2 separate regions of the Homo sapiens genome follow, and region 2 is linked to region 1. Evidence: fine-mapped expression QTL. A gene starts in region 1. The other region holds a variant in brackets. All regions are shown on one strand. Distances are from middle to middle. Region 1 holds the start of ALDOC (aldolase, fructose-bisphosphate C). Region 2 overlaps SUPT6H (SPT6 homolog, histone chaperone and transcription elongation factor).

What was found. PIP is the estimated chance that this variant, and not a neighbour inherited with it, causes the effect.
Region 2: its variant is fine-mapped to the expression of ALDOC in whole blood (INTERVAL, PIP above 0.99).

The regions. Positions count from the first base shown.
Region 1 is chr17:28,573,462-28,585,459 of GRCh38, reverse strand. ALDOC (aldolase, fructose-bisphosphate C) reads left to right here and starts at 8,565. Exons shown (of 9, transcript NM_005165.3): 1 at 8,565-8,659; 2 at 9,916-10,039; 3 at 10,126-10,337; 4 at 10,454-10,508; 5 at 10,604-10,764; 6 at 10,883-10,966; 7 at 11,219-11,393; 8 at 11,526-11,725; 9 at 11,839-11,998. The coding sequence starts at 9,928. The coding sequence ends at 11,934. It overlaps SPAG5 (sperm associated antigen 5), which reads left to right. Exons shown (of 24, transcript NM_006461.4): 9 at 49-141; 10 at 245-358; 11 at 715-808; 12 at 980-1,127; 13 at 1,208-1,310; 14 at 1,474-1,607; 15 at 1,811-1,949; 16 at 5,340-5,451; 17 at 5,623-5,709; 18 at 5,975-6,095; 19 at 6,208-6,319; 20 at 6,708-6,788; 21 at 6,932-7,087; 22 at 7,168-7,242; 2 more. The coding sequence ends at 7,761. RefSeq lists an enhancer at 8,163-8,342 and a silencer at 8,393-8,632.
Region 2 is chr17:28,673,268-28,688,652 of GRCh38, reverse strand. It overlaps SUPT6H (SPT6 homolog, histone chaperone and transcription elongation factor), which reads right to left. Exons shown (of 37, transcript NM_003170.5): 2 at 15,143-15,282; 3 at 14,212-14,370; 4 at 14,040-14,116; 5 at 13,491-13,683; 6 at 13,168-13,252; 7 at 12,223-12,496; 8 at 10,837-10,938; 9 at 10,461-10,577; 10 at 10,019-10,108; 11 at 9,690-9,832; 12 at 7,249-7,397; 13 at 6,673-6,771; 14 at 5,797-5,926; 15 at 5,561-5,711; 9 more. The coding sequence starts at 15,251. Among named protein-coding and RNA genes, the nearest start is that of SUPT6H, 19 kb to the right of the region's middle. The variant G/T (reference allele first, on the strand shown) is at 10,968.

The DNA.
Region 1 (11,998 bases):
TGTATCCAAAGGGAAGGGGTTCCCGCCTAGGCAATCTTTCTTTTGTAGGTAGGGCTTCATGCCAAGCAAGAAGAGCTGGTTCAGCAGACAGTGAGTCTTACTTCTACCTTGCAACAAGACTGGAGGTCCATGCAACTGGATGTGAGTATTTGGGACCATCATAACTAATTCCTTACTCACATCAAGTCCTGTTGTGAGCTTTGCCTCAAGTGTGCTCTACTGACCTGCTTGCTTCCCCTGGTAGTATACAACATGGACAGCTTTGCTGAGTCGGTCCCGACAACTCACAGAGAAACTCACAGTCAAGAGCCAGCAAGCCCTGCAGGAACGTGATGTGGCAATTGAGGAAAAGCAGGAGGTACAAACCAAGAGTGGGGACTGCTTAGGCTTGGTTTCCTTCCTAATGTGTGATACCATTAGCCTCTTACCCTGGATCTGTTTTCTTTTCACCCTGTGGGTTTGGAGGCCAGCCAGTAAGGTCTCTTAGCTGTAAGATGGCCTTAAGCGCAGTTTTTTCCTTTGCCCTTCAGCATCTTTACTTCAGCAACTTTTCTCCTGTCTCTACTTTTTCCTGAGGATCAACCTTATTTTCTGCAATGTTGATGCCCAGGAGCAAGGTAGTTTTCTGTCTTGTCCAGAAAGAGAAGCTGGACCAAGTCCTGGGATTATTGATTCAGGAGGAACTATAGGAGGAAAACCATCTGTTCTTCCTAGGTTTCTAGGGTGCTGGAACAAGTCTCTGCCCAGTTAGAGGAGTGCAAAGGCCAAACAGAACAACTGGAGTTGGAAAACAGTCGTCTAGCAACAGGTGTTTGTGTGTGTGTGTGTGTATGCATGCATGTAAGCATTTGAGCCCTGTTAAGGCTTGGAGTGTGGCACTAGAGCAAGGAAGTACTCAGGAGCACTTGCTTTGGAGCAGAAGTTTGGGGAGTTTCTAGCCTGCTGACCGCATGGTGTCATTAGGATACTTTTGTTCTAGATCTCCGGGCTCAGTTGCAGATTCTGGCCAACATGGACAGCCAGCTAAAAGAGCTACAGAGTCAGCATACCCATTGTGCCCAGGACCTGGCTATGAAGGATGAGTTACTCTGCCAGCTTACCCAGAGCAATGAGGAGCAGGCTGCTCAGTGAGTTCCTAACGGGGTACTGTGGCAGTAGGCATCCAGGATTTAGGACCAAATGGGATCTAATATGTTGTCTCTGGCAGATGGCAAAAGGAAGAGATGGCACTAAAACACATGCAGGCAGAACTGCAGCAGCAACAAGCTGTCCTGGCCAAAGAGGTGCGGGACCTGAAAGAGACCTTGGAGGTAAGGAATATGGCTTGGGCCAAGGGAGCTGGTAAGCCTCAGGAGTGTGATTCTTGCCTGATAGTGTTGAGGTAAGGTTTGAGACTGTGAACTAGAAAAAGCCTCTGTACCCAGGGCACTAAAATTCTCCCTCCCTGTCTTGCTCCTTCTCTTGTCTTCCCAGTTTGCAGACCAGGAGAATCAGGTTGCTCACCTGGAGCTGGGTCAGGTTGAGTGTCAATTGAAAACCACACTGGAAGTGCTCCGGGAGCGCAGCTTGCAGTGTGAGAACCTCAAGGACACTGTAGAGAACCTAACGTAAGTTCTCTAACTTTCTGTACTTCCCCCTAAGTGCTTATTTTTTTCTCAGGAACACTTCTAGAAGCCAAAATCTCCAAGAAGAGAACTGTGAGTGTTGAGCCTCTTGTTTCTCTCCTTTAATGCAGCTCTGTGGGGATTTGGGATAGGCGTTCAGAGAAGGTAATTTGGTCTTTGGTCATCTTCCCTGTTCCTTATTTCAGGGCTAAACTGGCCAGCACCATAGCAGATAACCAGGAGCAAGATCTGGAGAAAACACGGCAGTACTCTCAAAAGCTAGGGCTGCTGACTGAGCAACTACAGAGCCTGACTCTCTTTCTACAGACAAAACTAAAGGAGAAGGTAGGATCCTGGGGTTCCTTCTCTTCTCTTCCAATTGTATCTTTATTTTACAGATAGTCTTCCTAAAACATTACTCTTTTTCTAACTGTGACCTTTTATGATTTCAGTTACCTACAGGACCTCATTAGCCTGTTGCTCAAACCTTTCTTCCCCTGTCTCCTATCTCCCTATTATGAACACTTTGCCCCAGCTAGACTGCCTGTATGCTACACACATGTCCCCATTTTTATCCCCAGAACCCAGACTCTGGCTGTTCCCACATTCATTCTATTCTTTCTTCAAACTGGAAATGCCTTTTCTATTAAAATCCTCCCTTCCGACCTGGGCAACGTGGTGAAAACCATCTCTACAAAAAAATACAGAAATTAGCCCAGGTGTAGTGTTGTGAACCTGTAGTCCCAGCTATCTGGGAGGCTGAGGTGAGAGGATCACCTGAGCCTGGGAAGTTGAGGCTGCAGTGAGCCATGATCATACCTGGCTAATTTTTTTGTATCACTGCACTCCAAACTGGGTGAGAGTGAAACCCTTTCCCCCACAAAAAAAGAAATCTTCCCTGGTTTACCTTCTTTGAACTGTTCCCAAATCAAATCATGTGGACCCGGTGATCTTTTCTTCTGCCATATTTCTCATGAACTTACTCTTCTTTTGTATTTGTATTAATTTTCCTTGGATACCTGGTCTCTTCAACCAGACTATGTTTCAAGAAAGCAGAAATATAGCCTTCTTTGGCCTCCCTGCAGTGTGCACTAAACAATAAATGGTTGACATCATTCAGAATACAAAGGTAATTAGCTTATTCAGCAGATAAGGCACAACAAATATCCTAAAATCTGGCAATTGCTTATGACCTGATCCTCTTCCCCAACTGGGTACCGAGCACAGGAAATGCCATCAAATCTACAGTTTAGCATGGAAGACAAACAGATGTAAACTTGTCATCTTGACTTATGATCATGGTAGAGGTCTGCATGGACCACTGTGAGAGATAGAGAGGGGAGCACCACTTCAGCCTTCGAGAATTAGGATGCCTTCTCAAAGCAGCTGACCTTGGGTACAGTCTTGAGGTTTAGACGTTTGTGGGGCAGGGGAGGGTATTTAGGAAGTCCCACTAGGCAGAGGGAACGGTGTATGAAAGTTTCATCTGACTACATATGAGAGTCGTACGTAGAAAGTCATGCACATAGTACATGATGTGTTCTTTTTTATAGTGTCTACCTTATAAAACCTGGGTTAGGTGCTGGGACTAGAGGATGAACAAGGCAAGATGCTGCTCATATGGAATGCAGCAAGTCTGAGGAATGGGAAGCAGCTCTTCATGGCTGCAGCGTGAGAGCTCTGTGGGGCAAGGCAGGAGACAACACTGGAGAAGTAGGCAGGAGGCCAGATTTTGAAGGCTTGAAATAATGGCAGTTTTATAGGCAGTAGAAAGGAGAGGATGGAGTGAATGGATTCAATAGATATTTAGGAAGCAGAGGCAGTAGAACCAATTTGATGTAAGAGTGACCAATTTGATGTGAGAGTAAGTTAGAAGAGTGAATGATGATCCTTAGATTGCTAGGAAAGAGGGCCCAGCGGGTCAGCTGTGTTAGTGTGTGGAGACTAGGGCTAGTGACACCTCCGGGTCAGCTCTGTGCCCAGGAAGCACTTCAACCTGTGTGGCAGGAGGGATAGCAATAGGAAGCACTTCAATTCCCCACAACTCAGACACCCAGACGGGAGGGCAGAGGACCAAGGCTGAAAGGAGTAGAGAGCCTGAGAGAGAGATGAGACTGAGGGGAGCTAGTGGTGACTCAGGCTAACCAGTCAGCGGGAGAGACCTAGACCGGGGGGCAGAGAAGGCGGGAGAACTGGAGAGAGGACCTAGCCTAGGAGGAGAGGGAGCAGGCTGAGAAGGAAATGCTCTGGGTAGGAGAGACAGACTCCAAGGAAAAATCCAACAAGTAGAGGAGGATTTGGGATTGGAAAAGCTGAGGTCCAGCTGGGAGAGCTGAAGAGGGATAGAACAGAAGAGGTTGAGCCATGGGGTTTCAAGTACGCGGAAAGGAGCAAAGATGTTAGGAAAGGGTCGAAAGGGCACATCCCGGAGTCCCAGGTAGCAGGACGAGGATGGCAGGGGAAGAGCCAAGGAAATGAAGCGGAGATGTTGAGTGGCTCCCGCCTTGCCTGGCCTTACCTGTGCGCAGCCAGTTAGCAGCCGCAGCCACAAGCACAGCTACTTCAGGACTGAGGCCAGCAAGCTTTTCCTATAAATGGCCATATAATAAGTATTTTTGGCTTTTTGGGCCATATGGTCTCTGTCTCAACTACTCAATTCTGCCTTTGTAGTTCAAGAGCAGCCATAGATGATACAGCCATTAATGGGTCTGGCTGTGTTCCAATAAAACTTTATTTACAAAAATAGTTGGCAGGCTAGATTTGACCTGTAGGCCACAATTTGCTAGCCTTCCCTCTCCCTGCTCTAGAATAGTAAATACAGGAGTAGGAACAGACTTTTGATAGGGTGTTCCCTATCAGGGCACAGGGAAAATGGTGAACTCAGCTTCATACATACTAAGTTGACAGATTGACTGTGGAACCTTCTGGTAGATTCTTCACAGGCAGTTAGCCTTTGAGTCTGCAGACTGGGAAAAAGACTGGGAAAAAGTTGAGAGAGGGATGGAAGAGTCATTCATGTGGAAGGGAAGTTTGAAGTAGATGTTTTTGTGATGCTCCCAAGGCAAGGCCACCCTGGGAATGAATTAGAGTAAATTTAGGGCCAAGGACTTAACCCAGAGGATCCAGCAGTTAAGGAAGGACCTGTGAATAGAGAAGAAATAACCAGAAAGGTGTGGGGCCTGCCTTTAAAGGAGAGAGACTCATGTCCTGGAAGCTAAGAAAAGGAAGTTTCTAAAAGAACAATGTGGTCATCAATATCAAATAGGTCAGGTAAAACAAGAGCTGAAATATATGCATTGCATTTGAAAGTAAGGCTGCCATTGGTGAACCAAATGACAAGAATTTAGGTGGAATGACAGGGGAGAAGCCTGAGTGTAGTGGGCTGGGGAGTCAATAGATGGTGAGAGTTATAAACAAGAAGTATAGGCTCTTTTTTTCTTTCTTTTTTCTTTCTTTCCTTTCTTTCTAGAAAAGGCAGTAGCTAAAAGGGGATTTAAGGTAAGAAGAAGGGTTTTGTTTTGTTTTGTTTAGGTTTGTTTTTAAAATACTGCTGTTTTTGTTGGAGAGGCTTAAGAATATAAACATGTTCAGAGAAAGGCACTAATGGAGAAGTTGAAGATAGAGAATTGAGATAATAGGTGGAACAGCATTTTGGAGGAGATGGCTGGGAGTTACCTGGAAGCCCAGGAGTTCACTAGACCTGAACAGCAGCTATTTTTTCTTCTTTGCCCTTAGACTGAACAAGAGACCCTTCTGCTGAGTACAGCCTGTCCTCCCACCCAGGAACACCCTCTGCCTAATGACAGGACCTTCCTGGGAAGCATCTTGACAGCAGTGGCAGATGAAGGTTAAAGGCCCTGGGATTTGGGGGTGGGAAAGTTGTGACGCTGCTCCTGATATCTTCTGCTGTTGAAGATGTCCACCAGCGGGCTTGTCTATCTTACCCTGGCTTCCATTATGGTAGACCCCTGCCTGGATCATCAGAGGGGCCCTCTCCCATTATTGGTTTTTCTCTTAGAGCCAGAATCAACTCCTGTGCCCTTGCTTGGAAGTGACAAGAGTGCTTTCACCCGAGTAGCATCAATGGTTTCCCTTCAGCCCGCAGGTTAGGAGGGGCTCCAGGGATCCTGCCTCATTTCTAGAAAATCTGGTGGTGATGAGTAAAGACGAAAGCAGTGAGAAGTGCTTTGCTCTAAAAACCTCAATTCTACTTGGGCTCATTTTATTTCTGCCTTCTGGGATCTGTAATGTTCCAGACATTCAAATCCTGTGGGTGGGGAACACGGATAAGAGTTGTGGAAATGATGGCTATACACTCCTTCCTTCCAGGGCTGGAAGGCTAGACCTCTATCTGGGACTTTCTCTTTCAGAGACCCCAGGCATGGAGGAGAGCCTGGCAGAAATGAGTATTATGACTACTGAGCTTCAGAGTCTTTGTTCCCTGCTACAAGAGTCTAAAGAAGAAGCCATCAGGACTCTGCAGCGAAAAATGTGAGTGGGATGCAGTTTTGGTGACAGAGGGACAGTGAGACATCCTCTTATGCCAAGGGTCCAACTGATCCCTGAGAGGACAGGAATGTTGCTAAATTCTTCCTTCCTTCAGTTGTGAGCTGCAAGCTAGGCTGCAGGCCCAGGAAGAACAGCATCAGGAAGTCCAGAAGGCAAAAGAAGCAGACATAGAGAAGCTGAACCAGGCCTTGTGCTTGCGCTACAAGGTGAAGGAGGGACCTAGAAGTGGGGCGATGAAGAACTGGGGCAGCTCTACTGGCCCACTGGGAGCCATTATCTCTCCAGGAATCTGGGTGGTGGGGATTTTCCAACCACTGCCCTAGTTTTGCCCTTCCTGGGGTCAGACATTTCACATGTCAGCTATGGGCTGACCTGTCTTCCCAGGCTGACTCAGGAGAGAAGTCAGGAACTCTAGCAGAGCTCTCCCAACACTGAAATGTGCCTTGCCTGGCTTGGCCCTGGGGAAAGAATTGGCGTGATATCAATTGGTCCCATGTGGGCTAAGCATGGGTCAGGCACTCTCTCCTACCTCCTGGCAAGGGCTGTGAAGAGACCAGCTCTTCATGTGTCTTCTCACCTCCCTTTCCCTCACAGAATGAAAAGGAGCTCCAGGAAGTGATACAGCAGCAGAATGAGAAGATCCTAGAACAGATAGACAAGAGTGGCGAGCTCATAGTATGTTCACCATCATGCCCAGGCCTTTGCCTTCTGTGTTACTGGTCAGCCAGGATCCCAAGTATGAGAAATGGTTTGCTTTTGTTCACCACATGTTGTCTATCCTTATGTCCTATTGGACACCTCTCCATTCTCATTCCCAGAGCCTTAGAGAGGAGGTGACCCACCTTACCCGCTCACTTCGGCGTGCGGAGACAGAGACCAAAGTGCTCCAGGAGGCCCTGGCAGGCCAGCTGGACTCCAACTGCCAGCCTATGGCCACCAATTGGATCCAGGAGAAAGTGTGGCTCTCTCAGGAGGTGACTCAGAGTTAACAGAGGAGCTGGACAGCAGGTGGGGACCCCAGGCTGTACCCCTGTTGATCTGGACATATTTCTAGGTGGACAAACTGAGAGTGATGTTCCTGGAGATGAAAAATGAGAAGGAAAAACTCATGATCAAGTTCCAGAGCCATGTAAGAATGTCCATGCCATTCCAGGGCCATTTCCTACCATCGTTAACAAATGCCCCGCCATGTTTCCCCTGTCCTACCAAGTTTGCTCTTTTATGCATAGGACTTATAAAATCTGTTTGCTTTCTAGAGAAATATCCTAGAGGAGAACCTTCGGCGCTCTGACAAGGAGTTAGAAAAACTAGATGACATTGTTCAGCATATTTATAAGGTATAGGCAGGAGGGAGGTGATATCACTAATGAACCTGGTACAAGGCCTGGCCCCAGGAGGTACTAATGAGCACAGATCTGGTTCCCAGCCTGTGCTGAGAGCTGGGCCTGAATCACTATTGCAGGCTTCTCTGTGGTGTCTGTTTTCTCCCCTCTAATTCAGCGGCTGCCTCCTGGGGCTGGGAGCCCTGGGCCTTAAGTCTGTGGTCCTGAGCTGCGTTTTCTGCCTCTCTTCCCAGACCCTGCTCTCTATTCCAGAGGTGGTGAGGGGATGCAAAGAACTACAGGGATTGCTGGAATTTCTGAGCTAAGAAACTGAAAGCCAGAATCTGCTTCACCTCTTTTTACCTGCAATACCCCCTTACCCCAATACCAAGACCAACTGGCATAGAGCCAACTGAGATAAATGCTATTTAAATAAAGTGTATTTAATGAATTTCTCCAAGCTTACGGAATCTTACTTTTTGGGTGAGAGGGGGCGGATGATGAAGTCAGGGAAGAAGCAGCTTGGGCCTCCTGCCTGGGCACCCTCCATAGATCCCTCTCCACCTCCTGCTGCATCCAAAGCCAAGGCTGCCTGCCCTTCCTCCCTTCCTCTGCTTTCACCAAAACTCTGGGCACTGGACTGCTTGTTCCCTGGCTCACCGCCTGGAGGAAACAGAAAGGCTTCATTCTCTTACTTTCCCCAGCCCCCTCGGGGGTATACCCTGGCAAATATGGGGGTGAGGACAGAGAAGCTCAGTTCATTACTTCCTGCCCTGAACTTGGGCACCTTGAAGATGCTTCTGCCCCACCTACTCAACCTGTTGTTACTGTTCTGGTGCCTCCTCTTCACCAGACTAAGCTTAATCCCCAGCATCCAGCAAGTGCCCGGCACGTGGTAAAGGGATTGTGGCAGAAATGAACGCAAGGTCATGGCCAGGCTCCCCGAGGTGGGAGGGCAGTCCCTAACAGCCACGGATGCCTGGCGGGGCGCTCACTCCACCTCGCCGCCCCGCCTCTGAGGGCGTGGTCTTGCCCCGGACACCAGTCCTGGGGAGGGGGTGTGGTCAGGGCGGGGCATGCAGGCCACGCCCCCGGAGGAGTCACGTAGCTCTGCGACATCCGCAGCCTCATTTACCAGAGGGAGCCAGGGCTGCAGCCTCATCTGTTTGCGGATCAGAACCCGAGCTGTGCTTGTGGCTGCGGCTGCTAACTGGCTGCGCACAGGTAAGGCCAGGCAAGGCGGGAGCCACTCAACATCTCCGCTTCATTTCCTTGGCTCTTCCCCTGCCATCCTCGTCCTGCTACCTGGGACTCCGGGATGTGCCCTTTCGACCCTTTCCTAACATCTTTGCTCCTTTCCGCGTACTTGAAACCCCATGGCTCAACCTCTTCTGTTCTATCCCTCTTCAGCTCTCCCAGCTGGACCTCAGCTTTTCCAATCCCAAATCCTCCTCTACTTGTTGGATTTTTCCTTGGAGTCTGTCTCTCCTACCCAGAGCATTTCCTTCTCAGCCTGCTCCCTCTCCTCCTAGGCTAGGTCCTCTCTCCAGTTCTCCCGCCTTCTCTGCCCCCCGGTCTAGGTCTCTCCCGCTGACTGGTTAGCCTGCATCACCACTAGCTCCCCTCAGTCTCATCTCTCTCTCAGGCTCTCTACTCCTTTCAGCCTTGGTCCTCTGCCCTCCCGTCTGGGTGTCTGAGTTGTGGGGAATTGAAGTGCTTCCTATTGCTATCCTCCTGCCAAACAGGTGAAGTGCTTCCTGGGCACAGAGATGACCCGGAGGTGTCACTAGCCCTAGTCTCCACACACTAACACAGCTGACCCGCTGGGCCCTCTTTCCTACATCACTGCAGCCCCACTGGGGCCAACCTCTGGTACTGGGTGGGAATAGGCAATAGGCATAGGCAGGCAGGTTTGGAGTACAGAAAAGGAGAAGCTGCAGGAGCCTGTGACTGGTATTTGTGCCACTCCTACTCCCTACCTGTTCTTCCAACCTTTTCCTCTAGAAGCTGAGAGAAGAGGGTGGCAATAAGTACTTTTGCCTCATTCTGAAGCCTTGGAAGTAAGTACACTTTCCCTAGGGGTCCTGTGGAGGATGAGAAAAGGGAAGCTGGAAAGGCCAGGACTTTTGCCTACCTCAACAAGGGACCAAGTTCAGTGAAAGAAGGGTTGGCATCCTTGATTGGGCAGCAGATTTATCAGAAGAGCTGTGGCTTCAGGGCTGCTCACCTCCCCACCCCCACCCTGCATCTTTCCCCAGGGCTGGGAAGGATGCCTACCAGGGACAAAAGGAGATGTGGGAACTGGAGCCCTAAGCTTGCTAGCTGTCAGAAGGACTGGTGCCACTTGATGCCCAGGACTCATGCCAAGGACTGCTGCCCTGTTCCCAGCCCCTTGCTTGATGGGGAGGCCATTTGGCCCATCTGGCCAGGAGAGGCAGCAGAGGGTGAGGTCTGGCTTTTTTATCTTGTCTCCACTCCAGGGAGCTGTCACCATGCCTCACTCGTACCCAGCCCTTTCTGCTGAGCAGAAGAAGGAGTTGTCTGACATTGCCCTGCGGATTGTAGCCCCGGGCAAAGGCATTCTGGCTGCGGATGAGTCTGTAGGTAAGTGGACATCTGTAGCCAGGTAGGGTACAGGTGGCTAGGGGACCCTGGGGATGTTCTCACTGCCTCTCTTTGTTTGCCCCTAGGCAGCATGGCCAAGCGGCTGAGCCAAATTGGGGTGGAAAACACAGAGGAGAACCGCCGGCTGTACCGCCAGGTCCTGTTCAGTGCTGATGACCGTGTGAAAAAGTGCATTGGAGGCGTCATTTTCTTCCATGAGACCCTCTACCAGAAAGATGATAATGGTGTTCCCTTCGTCCGAACCATCCAGGATAAGGGCATCGTCGTGGGCATCAAGGTGCAGCCCCTGGCCCTGCTCTGAATGGAAGCTGGGTGTGAAAATAAGCTTGTGTAGGAGGGGTAGCAAGGAGAATCCTGCCTGGATTCAACCCTCTGCTTGTACTTCCTCTACAGGTTGACAAGGGTGTGGTGCCTCTAGCTGGGACTGATGGAGAAACCACCACTCAAGGTATAGGATGGGTGGGCTTGAGGACCAAAGAGGTGTTAGATAGTTGATGCTGGTAAAAGAGGGGCAGAGTAATGAGGTTGGCACTGTGCTTGCAGGGCTGGATGGGCTCTCAGAACGCTGTGCCCAATACAAGAAGGATGGTGCTGACTTTGCCAAGTGGCGCTGTGTGCTGAAAATCAGTGAGCGTACACCCTCTGCACTTGCCATTCTGGAGAACGCCAACGTGCTGGCCCGTTATGCCAGTATCTGCCAGCAGGTGTGTGTGTTGGGAGGGTGGTGAGCTAGGTGCCCTGTATGCCTGGTGGGGAGAGAGTCACAAGGCTTTCTTCATCTCCCCTACTGCCCCTCCCAAGCATCTCTGCTCTTGCCTGCAGAATGGCATTGTGCCTATTGTGGAACCTGAAATATTGCCTGATGGAGACCACGACCTCAAACGTTGTCAGTATGTTACAGAGAAGGTGAGTCCACACCTGGGCACACAAACATACTGCAGGGACAGCTCGGCAGGAGTGTCTGTTCCCCAGAACCCCCAGCTTAGATCCAGGCACACTTTCCCCTAGCACTTTTTCACTTCATCCCGGCACAGGCCTGTGATCTGAGCCTGTACTGAGCCCTCACAGTCTGTGCCCATCTACCCCTACATAGGGAGCATCGAGCAGTAACCAGTGGGGGCCCAGACCCTTAGTAAACCTCCTCTAATCCCCACCCAGGTCTTGGCTGCTGTGTACAAGGCCCTGAGTGACCATCATGTATACCTGGAGGGGACCCTGCTCAAGCCCAACATGGTGACCCCGGGCCATGCCTGTCCCATCAAGTATACCCCAGAGGAGATTGCCATGGCAACTGTCACTGCCCTGCGTCGCACTGTGCCCCCAGCTGTCCCAGGTACTACCCAGCTCCCTAACCTGCTCCTATCCCTAAGGCCCATCTTCAGGTCCTTCTTGTGGCCTTCAGGGGTTCCCTATCCTGGAAAAATTGGGAGTGACCAGTCAGTTTGTCTTCTCTCCTCCACACTAGGAGTGACCTTCCTGTCTGGGGGTCAGAGCGAAGAAGAGGCATCATTCAACCTCAATGCCATCAACCGCTGCCCCCTTCCCCGACCCTGGGCGCTTACCTTCTCCTATGGGCGTGCCCTGCAAGCCTCTGCACTCAATGCCTGGCGAGGGCAACGGGACAATGCTGGGGCTGCCACTGAGGAGTTCATCAAGCGGGCTGAGGTTGGGAGCTACAGGTGGTGGTGGGTGGGGGCAGCACCCAGAGGCTATAGCCTGGGCAGGGCTTGGCACCTGTGGGCTGGCTCAGCCTGCTTACTCCACGCTCCCTTTTGCAGGTGAATGGGCTTGCAGCCCAGGGCAAGTATGAAGGCAGTGGAGAAGATGGTGGAGCAGCAGCACAGTCACTCTACATTGCCAACCATGCCTACTGAGTATCCACTCCATACCACAGCCCTTGGCCCAGCCATCTGCACCCACTTTTGCTTGTAGTCATGG
Region 2 (15,385 bases), 100 kb before region 1:
CAAGTGAATAGAACTTTCTCTTAATAACATCATCTCAAAACATACCAAATCTCTCTCCCCCTTCCTTATCTCTTTATACCCCCAAACTCCTTTTTCATTGCCCCCGCTATTCCCACCCTTATCTGGCCACAACAAACCATAATAATAAAAAAGCAAGTTTGTGTTTACTGAACAAAATCTTGTGTTTTCCATGCTTAATTTATAAGCTAAGCTGGTACTTTTTATGTTTCTCTCACACGAAAAATGTTTCACATGATTGAACCGATCTTTTCCATAGGTCAGGGGCTCTTGACTGAATAAAGTTCCTTACCTTTTCTTTAAAACATTTCCTAAGTTAAAATGGCTTGTGGCCCTTTGATAGCCCTAACCCCTGAAACCCGAAAACAAAGCCCACAAGGGAATTCCTCCTGCCCCATCCAGGCAGAGGGCATCACCTGTCCCCCAGGGAGGCCGTGTCGATCTTGAGGAAGCCAGCACAATTCATGAAGACTTTGGGACCCATGTGGCACATGGTGACCAGCTGGGTCCGGCTCTCGAGCCGGGTGTTGTTCTGCTTCAGGATCTGGGGGAGAGAGCTGGACTGAGCCAGGGCAGTAAGCAGGCCCCACCTCCCCAGACTGTTCCAGTCTCTATTAAACCCTCATAACAAAAACTCTGTCCCACCCAGTATCTAGTTGAGCACTACAGCATGCTATCGACCACTCAAAATTAAAAAAAAAAAAAAAAAAGTTTTGCTTTAAATGGGAAAATAATAAACAAATAAATGATGTTATACCTACACCAAAGACCATATACAACTAATGTATGGCTTATAAGTTACAAGTTAACACTAGTTGGCCGGGCGCAGTGGCTCATGCCTGTAATCCCAGCACTTTGGGAGGCTGAGGCGGGTGGATCACCTGGGGTCAGGAGTTTGAGACCAGTCTGGCCAACATGGTGAAACCCCGTCTCTACTAAAAATACAAAAAATTAGCTGGGTGTGGTGGTGCAAGCAGCAGTGAAGGGCACAGCTTTGGCCAACTGGGTCTGAAGTCAGACTCTTTTGACTCTCACTAGCTGAGTGATTTTGGACAAGTCACTGACCTTGGTCCTCCCAATCTGTCAAATTATACTGACAAAGTATATATTCATATTCAATGAAATGGCAAGTTTTAAAATTTCTGAATTCACTCCAATCCTACCTTCAGGAGGTGGGTCCCTTTCCGAGGTCCCAGGCCACAAACATACTGGATCAAGGCCTGGCTGTAAGGGTGGGCAATGGCACGGTTGACATCGACCCCGACCTCATTGACTCGGTTGATAAATTCACAGTACAAGGCGTTGAGCAGCTCCTCTTTCACCACATGCTCCTGTGGACATTCAGCAGGCAGGAGTAAGGTTACTCTGCCTTTCCCTTCACCCGAGCCTGCCTGTCAAATCCTACTCACCTGCAAGGGGTGAAACTTGAGACACAGGATGTCTTCATCGGAACTGCACACCTGGGCAAATTCAATCAGAGGGTCCTGGATGCGCCGGGCCAGGGAGACGGCCTGTCTCAGCACTGGAGGATAATCCCGGAACTCTGCCTAGAGTCAAACGAGGGTCAGCAGGGCCTTAAAATCCCCTTAGCTACAACATCAAGAGGAAATCCAAACCATTCTGGTTTAAATCATTTTCTCTGCTTCTCTGGGATCTTTTTTCCTGAGACCGATTTAATTTCTGGGACTCCCAATCTGAACCGTAACTGCAAAACGGAGAACTTCTGCATGGATAAGTACACAGGTACAGTCCTGTGCCCCTGATAACTTTTGTTTCCCAATTTAATCTCTTTGGGATTAATAGCACTTGCCTGGGCAGGCCCTAAGGGTGAGGCTCCAGCATTACCTCTGACTTCTTGCTGTTCATATAGAGAATGGCCAACTCGTTGTCAACCAGCTCTACCCCAATAGATGACAGCTGCTGGCCCTGGTCCAGCTCATGTACAATGCGCTTCACATCTTCAATCAACATCTGGGCGTCCCTGGTGGGATGAGTGTTGGTCAATGAATATGTTTTCTTAGGGATGGACAGTCTCATGACTGCCTTGGGGGTGAAGAGGTAGGGGAGGAAAGGGCTTTGAAGAAAATGAGGTCAAACATCCCCAGGGACACTCCCTGCACAAGCACAAGCCCCATCTGTTATGGGCATATGCCAGACTCAATAATAAGGGATGAGTTGGGTCACGGCCTTAAACCAGGTGTGGTCTAATCCCTACCTACCTGTTCTCTCCTGCAACTGTCACTACATGAGGCTTCTTATTCAGGAGAAATTTCTTTAGCGTTTCAATGTCTTGAGCCTGGATTGAAAGAAAATTGAAGCTGAATGGCTCTGAGGATGTAAAGATTTCAGGAAATTCTGTCTCCCTATGTTGGAGATCTTGTAAGAACTGGAAGTCTTCAGAAGATATCTGGTCCAAGGTGCTACCAAGGAACTATTCCCACCTCTTCCTGAAAGTTGGCCAACCCTGCCTCTGCTTAATAATTCCACTGACTAGAACTGCGCTCCAGTGGTACCAGGTGCCACTGGCTAGGTCCCAAGGATGAAGTTAGGAAACCGTTCTTTTTTATTGTAAACCAAAATCTAATACTTAGCCATTGGTTCTAGTTTTGATGAAGCAAAACAAAGAACTAGTAGCTGCCCTCTTTTGGGTGAGGGCCCTTTGAAAAGGTCAACATGGTTAAGTATGATTTCCTTCATCTTAAAGATGTCCAGTTTCTTATGATTTACTTTCCACTGCCTCACACTCCTGCATGTCCTCCTTTTGTGGCTATTTCATTTGTGGTGTGACTTTTGCTAAAATGTGAGTAGTTAGGACTATTAGATATTCTGATCTCCATTTCAAGATTTTAAGGGCTGGGTGCAGTGGCTCACACCTGTAATCCCAGCACTTTGGGAGGCTGAGGCAGATGGATCACTTGAGTCTAGGAGTTTGACACCTGCCTAGGCAACACGGTGAAACCGTGTCTCTACAAAAAATACAAAAATTAGACAGGCGTGGTGGTGCACGCCTCTGGTCCCAGCTACTTGGAAGGCAGGAGGATCACTTGAGCCTGGGAAGCAGAGGTTGCAGTGAGGTGAGTTCTTGCCACTGCGCTCCAGCCTGGAGATGGAGCAAGACTCTGTTTCAATAATAATAATAATAATAATAATAATAATAATAATGATAATAATAAAATTTAAAAAATAGTTGTTTCTTAAGAAGTTTTTCTTTCAAGAATGGGGCTCTGTTAACAAAACTGAAAGATACTACAGATACCATTAGGATAAACAAAATTCAGAAATATACCAACCAAATGAATTGAAAGTCTTCTTTCCCTGGAAAAAAGACACCCTGAAAGGCTAAAGCAGGGAAAAGGCTGGCTTCATGCCTCAGTAGCTTTCAGCTGCTGGAACAGCCTGACCCAGATGCTGGTAAGAAAAGAGGCAGTTAAAGCAACTCCAGAAGCACACAAGGCCTAGGAACTGGCCTCAAGCCAGAAGCAAATCCCGTACTAGATAACTTGAGTGCCATCTACTGCTCATGGAAGTGAGGCATCCCAGGGGACAAGTCAGTGACCAGATCAGACACAATCAGTCTTGCATAGGATGTTGCTTAGACCGTAAACACTTATCTCCACTGAATCATAAGACATACTCCAGATGTACACTTAGTATCCTCGTCCTAGCCACTTGCCTTCTTTTCCCGCTCTTCCTCTCTCCATGCAGTTCGCCGTTTGGTAAAATGGGGCAGTCGAAGGAAGTCTGTCACTTCTCCTTCACCATTGACCAGGGCGCAGAACACAGGGTGATCTCTGCCAGACAGACAGAAAAACAAGAATGCAATAATCAGCAATATGAAGTTATGAATGAGAGAAAAATGAAATTAGGAAGACAAGAGATGGTGCTGGGGAGGCAAAAATAGGCTGTTACCTGGCAGAGGAGAAAGCAATGCCGAGGACTCGAATGCCCTTCCCTTGGTTCTCGTCCATAAAGTCGTCATCTTCTTCCACCTGCTGATCTGGTCGGTAGGGTGCCACTCTCAACCAATTGTAGAGCTTTCGACTACAGGCCTGAGGGAAGAGACACAACAGGTATTACATACATGATGACATTATGGTCATCAGGCTCACCAAGAGTGCTATGGAAACACACTCATACACACATGTGCGAGGGTGTGTACTCTTATGTGCAGATGTTCCTAGCCATTGGCAGGCTTACCACCTGAAGGCATATCTTGCTTGTGGAAACAGGAGTGTATACAGAGAACAGTGATATAAACAAAGAATGTTTGGATGAGTGGGGCTGGGGGAGGGGAGAAGCTCCTGGAGCAGAGAGGTCTTAGAGGTGGTCCCTGTGGCCTTGTTAGCATTCCCTCTCAGATTATGCTTCACCTGCCCCCCGTGTTTCTCCATTAGCTATGGGACTATTCCTAAGGGGTTCCTTCATGCCCAACTATAGTTTGGGGAAATCATATGACTAAAAATCATGAGTCTCGGCTGGGCGTGGTGGCTCACGCCTGTAATCCCAGCATTTTGGGAGGCCAAGGTGGGCAGATCATGAGTTCAGGAGATTGAGACCATCCTGGCTAACACGGTAAAACCATGTTATTTTATACTAAAAATATAACATATTTTATACTAAAAATATAAAAAATTAGCTGGGCATGGTGGTGGGCGCCTGTAGTCCCAGGTACTCGGGAGGCTGAGGCAGGAGAATGGCATCAACCTAGGAGGCAGAGCTTGCAGTGAGCCAAGATTGCGCCACTGCACTCCAGCCTGGGCAACAGAGCAAGACTCTGTCACCAAAAAAAAAAAAAAAATCATGAGTCTCTGTCCTCACCTTTATGACATATTCCTTGGCTTCAGCCAGCAGCTTGTTCTTGAGTTCTTTGGCCATCTGCACATAGAGGAACTGCTGTAAAGCCCGTTCGATGGCCATGGTGCGCTGCCGGTTCCACTCCTGCACCTGGTGGCTGAACTCATCTCGGTAGTAAAACTGTTTTATCTCCTCAAAATATGTCTGGTCGTTGCCATAGCTGAGAAGAGACACAAAGCTATGGTGTCAGGAATGGAGAAAAGGTGACACCCAATGTCCATGAACATTCTAAGCAAGCCAGAGACAACAGCCTGCTCAACTCTGAAATTGTGGTTCCCCACTCCTGAGGGGCCCTTCCCTCCACCAGACTCCTCATCAGGCCTTCCCCAGAGAGTCGCCAGCCCAGGGCTCTGCTTACCCTTCCACTCCCTTCAAATCTATGCTGATGTCAGTGGTGAGGAGCCCTTCGTCTTCAGCCAGGCATATCTTGAGAAACTGGTCATCTCTCAGTTCCTTAACAGGCTTGTTCTTTAAATACTTGAAGGAATAGGCATAGTGGGCCTCATCCACATCCTGCACACATGAAGGGGGAATCATGAGCCTGCGGATGGGCTGGGCCAGGCCCCAGGAGAAAAGACAGCCTTTCTGCTTTCAGACACACAGCTCAGTGAAGTGGAAGGCAAGAAACTCAGGCAATCAAAGAAAGAGCTGGTGCACATCTTGGATCAAAGCCCTTCACCCAGCTCACCTTTCTACCTTTCTTGGTGGGGGTTATATTTAACTTGGCTCTCTCTTGGAAGGTTTGCCTCAGCACCTGCCGGACAAGGGGCTCACGGGCAATCTGCAGGGCTACCATGTAGCGGGCGCCTTCTAGCACAGCTTCTGGAGTAGGGAACTGGCTGTGGGGAAAATGGTGCAGCTACAGGACCAGGGTGTTGTGGTCCTCAGGCCCCTCCTCCTGTCAGCCACCTGCTGCATGCCTACCTGCAAACGTAATCCTTGGCCAGCTCCAAGGGCTCCGCGGGAAACTGCTCTGTCTCGTGCCGCTGGTAGCTATCCCGCAGGTTCTCCCCAAACTGCTCGGGAGTAAGCCCAAACTTTTTGGCCAGGCCATCTAAAGCAAACAGAAGAGTGAAGGGTAAGGCAGCAGATAGGCTGATAAACCTCTTGGCTTTCAGAATCTGGAGTTGGAATTCTGGGAACTAGCCTTTTTTATTTTCCTGAGACGGTCTCGCTCTGTTGCCCAGGCTAAAGTGCAGTGGTGTGATCATGGCTCATTGAAGCCTTAACCACCTGGGCTCAGGTGATCCTCCCACTTCAGCTTTCCCGAGTAGCTGGGACTACAGGTGTGTCCCACCACTCCTGGCTAATTTTTTCTGTATTTTTTGTAGTTTTGCTACGTTGACCAGGCTGGCCTCCAAATCCTGGGCTCAAGTGATCCTCCCACCTTGACCTCCGAAGTGCTGGGATTACATGCGTGAGCCACTGTGCCCAGCTAGAGCACTGGAATTTAAAGAGGCCATAAATGAGCAGGACCAGGTAGTCAAAGAACAATGAAAAAACTGATTTTAAACACTTGATGGGCTGTTATAAGGCAGAAGAAACAGACAGACTGGACTCTCTCCCTCCAATCATGAGTTTCCCATTATCTCAGGAAATTAGGGAGAGGCTGAACCATCATGTCGGGCGGGAATGGGTTTGGAGAGGGAGTATTTTTAAAGACCAGCTAATAGGCTAGTTCAGGATTGGATTGGTGATTGACCCAGATAGCCTTTCTTTTTCCTACCTACCAGTCTTTTTTCTGGGTAACTCCCCTTGCTCAGGCTAGAATGCCTAAATCCCAAAGCAGCTAGCTTTTACCTAGCCCAGCACTCTGGCAGATGGTGTACATGTCTCGGCGAGAGGCTTGCTTGAGCTCAGGCCCCCTCTGCTCCTCATCTTCTGCCTCGTCACCTTCACCTGGGAAGAAAACATGGGGAGATTTAGGGTTCTAGTTTCCAATCACTCCCAAGGATCTGACACATTAGGAGAGAAGCCTCAAAGGGTACCCAGCCAAGGGCCTCCTTCAAGATGCCATGGGCTGTCAAGTCTCCTGGGTTTTCTTTCTTGATTTTTTTTTTTTTTTTTTGAGACACAGCCTCGGTTTGTTGCCCAGGCTGGTGTGCAGTGGCATGATCTCAACTCACTGCAACAACTGCCTCTAGGTTCAGGCATGCCTCAGCCTCCTGAGCAGTTGGGATTACCGGCATGTGCCACCTACCCTGGCTACTTTTGTATTTTTAGTAGAGATGGGGTTTTGCCATGTTGGCCAGGCTGGTCTCGAACTCCTGACCTCAGGTGATCCACCCACCTTAGCATCTGAAAATGCTGGGATTACATGCGTGAGCCATCATGCATGGCCATCAAATCTCCTGGATTTTCTTTTCCAGCACTAACCTTCTTCATCTCCCTCTTCCCTGACACGCTTCAGCTTCTTGCGGCTAGCTTTGGCGGCGTTCTGCATCTTAGGGATGTCTCGGCCATAATAAAGAAGAAAATGGTTGTAGACATCTTTCAGCTCATCCATTGATTGGACATCCTTGAGCCTGAAAAAGAAGAGACATAAGGTTTCAGTCATCACTGCAGAAAGGGTATATCCCAATTTGGCTACAAGAGGTCCAATTCCCAAAAGGCAGTATCCCAACTAAAATGGGATCCCAACCAGTTTTTTCCAATTATTATTACTATTGTTATTATTTTTCTGAGACAGGGTCTCACTCTGTTGCCCAGACTGGAGATGGGATGATCACTTGAACCCGGGCGGTTGAGGCTGCCGCGAACTGTGACCACACCACTGCTCTCCATCCTAGGCAACAGAAGAAAGACCATTTCTTTTTTTCTTTTTTAAAGACACATAGCTGGTGCAGTGGCTCATGCCTGTAATCCCAGCACTTTGGAAGGCCAAGGCGGAGGGATCGCGACGTCAGGAGATAGAGACCATCCTGGCTAACACGGTGAAACCCCGTCTCTACTAAAAATACAAAAAACTAGCAGGGTATAGTGGCAGGTGCCTGTAGTCCCAGCTACTTGGGAGGCTGAGGCAGATGGTATGAACCTGGGAGGTGGAGCTTGCAGTGAGCCAAGATCGTGCCACTGCGCTCCAACCTGGGCGACAGAGTGAGACTCCTCTCAAAACAAAAACAAAAACAAAAACAAAACCAAGACACATGATAGCCCTAGAACATATCGTATTTATTTATTTTTTTGAGATGGAGTCTTGCTCTTGTCACCCAGGCTGGAGTGTAATGGCGTGATTTCGGCTCACTGCAACCTCCACCTCCTGGGTTTAAGAGATTCTCCTGCCTCAGCCTCGCGAGCTGGGATCACAGGCACGCACCACCACACCCGACTAATTTTTGTATTTTTAGTAGAGACAGGGTTTCACCATGTTGGCCAGTCTGGTCTCAAACTCCTGACGTCAGGTGATCTGCCCACCTCAGCCTCCCAAAGTGCTGGGATTACAGGTGTGAGCCACCACGCCCAGCCTCTCTTCTTTTGAGATGGAGTTTTGCTCATCACCCAGGCTGGAGTGCAATGGCACGATCTCGGCTCATTGCAACCTCCACCTCCCAGGTTCAAGCGATTCTCCTGTCTCAGCCTCCTGAGTAGCTGGGATTACAGGTGCCTGCCACCACACCGAGCTAATTTTTTGTATTTTTAGTAGAGACGGGGTTTCACCATGTTGGCCAAGCTGGTCTTGAACTCCTGACCTCAGGTGATCTGCCCACCTCAGTCTTCCAAAGTGTTGGGATTACAGGCATGAGGCACTGCGCCTGGCCTCCTTTTTCTTTCTTTCTTTTTTTTTTTTTTTGAGATGGAGTCTAGCTCTGTCGCCCAGGCCTGGAGTGCAGTGGCACGATCTCGGCTCGCTGCAACCTCTGCATCCTAGATTCAAGCAATTCTCCTGCCTCAGCCTCCCGAGTAGCTGGAATTACAGGCGCCTGTCCCCACGCCCAGCTAATTTTTGTATTTTCAGTAAAGACAGGGTTTCACTGTGTTGGCCAGGCTGGTCTCGAACTCCTGACCTCATGACCCGCCCGCCCTGGCTTCCCAAAGTGCCAGGATTACAAGCGTTAGCCACCGTGCCAGGCCCCAGCCCCCTTTTTCTTATGAGACAGGATCGGCCGGGCGCAGTGGCTCATGCCTGTAATCCCAGCACTTTGGGAGGCCGAGGCGGGCAGATCACGAGGTCAGGAGATCAAGACCATCCTGGCTAACACACTGAAACCCTGTCTCTACTAAAAATACAAAAAAAAACCGGATCTTGCTCTTTCACTCAGTGTGGAGTATAGTGGCATAATCATAGCTCACTGCAACCTTGAATTCCTGGGCTGAAGTGATACTCTTGCCTCATCCTCCCAAGTAACTGGGACTACAGGCAGAAGCCACCACGCCTGGCTTTGACAAGCTATAATTCTTTTTTTTTTTTGAGACGAAGTCTCGCTCTGTTGCCCAGGCTGGAGAGCAGTGGCACGATCTCAGCTCACGGCAACCTCCGCCTCCCAGGTTCAAGCAATTCTCCTGCCTCAGCCTCCTGAGTAGCTGGGATTACAGGCGTGTGCCACTGCTCCCAGCTAATTTTTTGTATTTTTAGTAGAGATGGGGTTTCACCATGCTGGCCAAGCTGATCTTGAACTCCTGACCTCAAGTGATCTGCCCGCCTCGGCCTCCCAAATTGCTGGGATTACAGGCATGAGCCACTGTGCCTGGTTGACAAGTTGGATTTCTAAGGGATGGGGCCCTGTGCTACACATTCTCCAAGGTTTAACAGTGCTCCTGCAGGGCCAGCCTTGGGGTCTGAGGGCTTCCCATAATGGAATAAACACCGCATGTTTTACCTCTCCATGTCAGTGGTGTCCAGAGCCCGGATGCCATCAGCAAGAGGTTTGTCAGGGTCAGCAGAGATCTGTTCATACTGATAAGCCTGCATCTTCTCAAACAGCCGTGTTAGGTTCTCTTTACGGATCCGCAGCTGGGTCCACTAAGGTGAAGTAGGGCAGGAATGAGAGCTTGTGTTCAGCCCTGGAGACTCAAGGCTGCTCTGATCCTTACCAGAAACCTAGTGGGGGAGGACTAGACAGGCCTGGGGGGTTTGGGTTTGTGGTATCCTGGTAGTAATGGTGCCTTCCCTGGCCCACACCTCTTGGGGGCCACGGATCTACATTACCTTTTCATCCCACTGCCAGACTCTCCATAGGTCATTGATGTGCAACTCAGGCTCCACATACTCCTTTCGATAGAAGGCAATAAAAGGCACCTAGGATGGCAAAGAGACTGCAGTCACTCAGAGAAGACAGATTTGCTAAGATCCCCTCTGTCAGTAGATAATGACTTCCTGGAGAAACAGCTCCAGGAAATTCAACAGTCAGAAGCCTGGCCTCCCTCACAGCCCTTCCAGGGCCTGGTGCTTTCCTCAATAGGAGAAAATAAAGCTGCAGACAGGGTAGCATTGTTCTTACGATCACTAGGGTCTCTGCTGGTCCTAACACTTGTTGAGTCATGGATAGGGGATACGGGAAGGGGGCTCCCACCTCATTTAGGTAATTATCTTTTCCCTCATCCCCTAACTAAATTTCTCACCAATGGGCCACCAGAGCTTGAGGTGTTACCTCAAAATGCTGATTTCGCATGAAGCCCAGGGCCTCTTTGATCTTCTGAATTGTGCTGGGCCCTTTCCGACTGAAGCTGCTGGCTGGCTGCCCTCGGTCTAGGTAATCACAGCTTTCCTACAGTAGGAAAATAAAGAAATAGCAAGACAATGTTTACTTGGTTTGTCTTACCATACAAGACTGCTTAATAACAAAGGATAACCTTTCTAGATGAAATCTAAAAAATTTTTCTCATATACACACACTTGTTGGGACTACATACACACAGTTTTCTAATACCAGGCACACGGATGTATGAAATAGGGGAGGAAGAGCTCCCCATCTTGATGAAGTGTCTTTTGGTTCATGTCAAAACCTAAGGATCTTTTTTGTGTACCTGGAGAGAAATGGTTGGTGTGGCAAAAGCATTCCTGTAGATCCAGTCAGCTTCTTCTTCTAGTTCATCATCTTCAGCCCCCTTGACTGGGATGGAGCGGAGCTGGAGTGGATAAGACAACAGGGTGAGAC[G/T]GACTTTATCTTGTGTCTCACTTAAGAAAAACATACCTTTTTGGACAGAAACGTGTGATCATCAAGTGCACATTTCCAGTATTGTTCTACAAATGCCATACCAGTGTTGTTCTGGCATGAAATAAGCATTTTTTTTTTTTGAGATGGTGTCTCACTCTTGTTGCTCAGGCTGGAACACAACGGCGCGATCTAGGGTCACTGCAACCTCCGCCTCCGGAGTTCAAATGATTCTCCTGCCTCAGCCTCCTGAGTAGCTAGGATCATAGGTGCCCGCCACCACGCCCAGCTGATTTTTTTTTTTTTGAGATGGAGTCTCGCTCTGTTGCCCAGGCTGGAGTGCAATGGCGCGATCTCAGCTCACTGTAACCTCCGCCTCCCAGGTTCAAGGAATTCTCCTGCCTCAACCTCCCAAGTAACTGGGATTACAGATGCATGCTGTCAACGCCCAGCTAATTTTTTTTTTTTTTTGTATTTTAGTAGAGACAGGGTTTTACCATGTTGCCCAGGCTGGCCTCTAACTCCTGAGCTCAGGCAATCCACCCACCTTGGCCTCCCAAAGTGCTAGGATTACAGGCGTGAGTCACCGTGCCTGGCCGCCCAGCTAATTTTTTACATTTTTAGTAAAGACGGGGTTTCACAATGTTGGCCAGGCTGGTCTCGAACTCCTGACCTCAGGTGATCCACCCACCTTGGCCTTCCAAAGTGCTGGGATTACAGGTGTGAACCACCGTGCCTGGCCATAAGCATTTCATGGTTTTTTTTTTTTGAGACAGGGTCTGCTTCTAGGCTGCAGTGCAGTGGTGCAATGATGGCTCACTGCAGCCGTGACCTCCCAAGTTCAAGCAATCTTCCCACCTCAGCCTCCTGAGTGGCTGAAACTACAGGTGTGCACCATCACAACCAGCTAGTTTTTTGTATTTTTTGTAGAGACAAGATCTCCCTATGTTGCCCAGGCTGGTCTTGAGTTCCTGGACTCAAGCAATCTGCCACCCTGGCCTCCTAAAGTGCTGGGATTATAGGTGTGAGCCACAGCACCCAGACTGCATTTCACAGATTTCTAAAGAAAACAGTATTTCTAGAACCGTAAGCAAGGTAGAGTCTATCTTCCCTTCTCTAAGAGCTGGATTTCCCAGGCCCCAGGTGAGATGAGGTTCAAACCTGTGCTGGATACTCAATGCCAGACTTTTGCTAGAATATTTCTTGGCTACAAGGTAATTATGGATTGGTAGAAGAGCAGAGGCTGGTGGTTTTTTACCTGGAACCTCTCAGGCAGGTCAGTGGCTCGGATTTCATTGTCCTGATCTGTGAGGTGGCTGCTTTCTAGCTCACTGGGCTCATACATTTCAAAGATGCTCCTACGGCTCACACGCTTCTTGGTGGTCTTCTTGGGGCGCACTCGGATTTCACCCTCAGCCTCATCATCCTCATACTCATACTCTTCCTCCAGTTCTTCATCATACTCATTGTATTTCTCAAATTCATCATAGTCAAAGTCCACACCGAAGATTTCCTGGGCTTCTTGCAGGGCCCTGTAGGTGGCAGCAAGAGGCAGGTGGCTCAGGTTCAGGTGAGAGGAGAGAAATGCAGCCCTTGCATAGATCCTTTACTTGTCCCAAGGGAACTGAGAGGGTTAGGAGGAAGGTAAACAAAATAACCATATTCACTGTGGACGAAAGGCTTCATTGGCGGATATTTCTGGGCAAACTATTGTATATGGAAGATTAAAAAGCTCATCTTTGGCACCTTCGAGTGACAGTAATCAAATAGCAACAGAGCAGACGGGTCTATGTCTTGCTCAGTGGACCCATCTTCTGCTAAGGCATTACAGTATTCCCTCAGGGCAAAAGCTTTCAAATTTGTAAATTGTGATGCGGGCATTTGTCTTCCAACAAAAATATATTAAGAATGTCAATATATATATAATTGAATAAACATGGAGCTGTAGGCGGAAGAGGAATGCTGGAGCCTTGCCCATGTGGGACTCTACTCCAATCCCACAGTAGTCCTAGAGTGCAGAGACAGCTCCCAGGGCTTCCGGGAGCAGTCTGAAATCACTGCCTGGTAGAGGTTATTTGAGGCAGGGAAGCAAAATGGCTGCAAGCTGGGAATGCCCCATTTTTGGCAAAGGCCTCTGATCTCCTCCTTCCTGACTGGGCCCACTCAATCACTTTATCCCCACCTTGTACCAGACCCCACTCACGCGTCTGTGTATCCAGGAAGCTTTTTCCGCCACTTAGGTTTTTTCAGAGGCTGTCCATCATCATCCACAATGAAGTCGTCAATATCTGGGTAGGAAAAGGATGGGTTGGGGCTCAGAGTCAGGGGCTGAGCCAGGACTAAATTGCTTTGGTTCCTACTATGTGAGTGGCCAGTGAGCAACAGAGAAGGGAAGCTCCTGAAAAGGAACTTCTTTGTGTCAAATGCTGGGGGATGTAGCTAAAGAATGGTTTCCATCCTGTTCCCATGGGCCAGGAAATCCCAATACCCATCCAAACACTGGCTTCCCTGCCCAATATAACATACCTGACTCCTCATCATCTTCTTCCTCCTCCTCTGGAGGAGCCATGGGGGCCTCCATGGCCTCCTGCCCTTCTTCCCCTTCCCCATCCTGGAAGATTTCTTCCGCAATAGCTTCTTTTTCATGTTCCTCCTTGCCATATTCCTCCTCGTCATCGTCCTCGTCATCTGACATTTTTTTGACACGCCGGTACTTTTGCTAGGGGTGGGAAAACCTGCCTTATCAGGATCTGAGGAGTCTGGCATACGGATACCAAATCTCCAGTCTCACTCCCTTCTTCCCACCACAATTACTCTGACCAAGAGAGATGGGAAAGAACATGCCGAGTGATGCTCTTGTAGCCTCAAAGCCCATCCTTGAAACTTGGACAAGACTTTCTCTAACAGGCACCCAGATCTGGGATGCAAATCTAGGCTCCGTAGTACAATGATACCGAACACCGTGCTCTAATGTTCTCCAAACTGTCCTGCGTGTGCCTCCTCACCCACAGACATTGAAATTTCCAGGGCTTTTTCCTTTACCCCCAGGGACAAAAGACAAAGAATGACACTTACTCCTCTTTTGACTTTGACACCCAAATTCTCCTCAATGAGGTCAAAATCATCATCCTCCAGGCGGTCATCAAAAGAGGCTGAAGAAACAAAGTGTTGCCCATGGTGATGGGGTTGCCCTTTTCCACTGCAACCTCCACCCAAGCCTCACTTGAGCCAACGACAGACTACTCACTGCGTTTTCTCTTCTTGTGGCCAACATCATCTTCTGAATCACCAGAGTCACTGCCCTCATCCTCCTCCCCTTCATCTTCATCATCATCGTCATTGATAAAGCCTTTCAAGTTGCCTTGCTCATCCTGATCATCTAGGTTCTCCTCCTCCTCCTCCTCATCTGGAAGACATGCATGTTTGAGGCATGGAGACTGAAAAACAGGCTAGAGGTTCAGGGTCACTTGATTAATGTGATTATCCATTTGCTCTGCACCTAATGACCTGGGTGCCATGTTAACTCTTCTGCCTCATGTAAAGATGCAAAACATAGCCATTGACTTAGAGTAGCAGCATCTGGAAAGAATGTTTTCTTCCCCTACATTCACCATCTGTCTTTGGGCAGGATGATCTTCCCCGTCACTTTGGCTTCTCAAAATCATTACTAGATTATTATAGCCACCAATAACTTTGTTTTACTCAGTTTGTAAACTCAGCAGCTATATTCCTTTTTTTTGCCATAATTCCTTTGATAAAACTTGTACGTCCCTTTACCCCTTTGAAGTCATTTCGTGGTTCTACTCTGTTGACAATTCTAAAGATTGGGCTTGGCCAGAGAAATAGGAAACGAGGTGAATAAATATCAACAATGCTAGGTCTAAAAGCAGAAAGTATTATATACAGACTTATCTACTGATTTATTATCAACCACCCCCCAACTAAAGTAAACTCCACAATAGCTGGATATTTATTGTTTTATATTTCTAGTTCCAGGCCTAGTGCCTGGCATACAGACAGATGCTCAGTTAGTATCTGCTAAGAATGACTGAAAGTTCTCAAGCTGGTACCTCATGTGTGATAACTTCTGTGCTGAGCCTGAGCTTTTCATCAGCAAGAATCCAACTATCCAAAGCTTAGCAATAGTGGGGAGAAGCTTGAGGCTGGGGCCTCCTCACCATCATCCTCCTCTTCCACAAATTTCTTGGTGACTCGGGGTACCACCTCGCCTTCATCATTGTATTCTTCCTCTGACTCCTCAGCCTCGCTTTCCACAAAATCAGACATTGCTGCAGCTTCTCACTCTGCCTGAAGATAACTAGGGAAAGAAAAGAGTGAAGGATAAAAAAACGGACACATGATTGTACAGAGGGCTCTTAAACCTTCCCACAAACAGCCTTTTAGCAACCTGCCACTGCTCT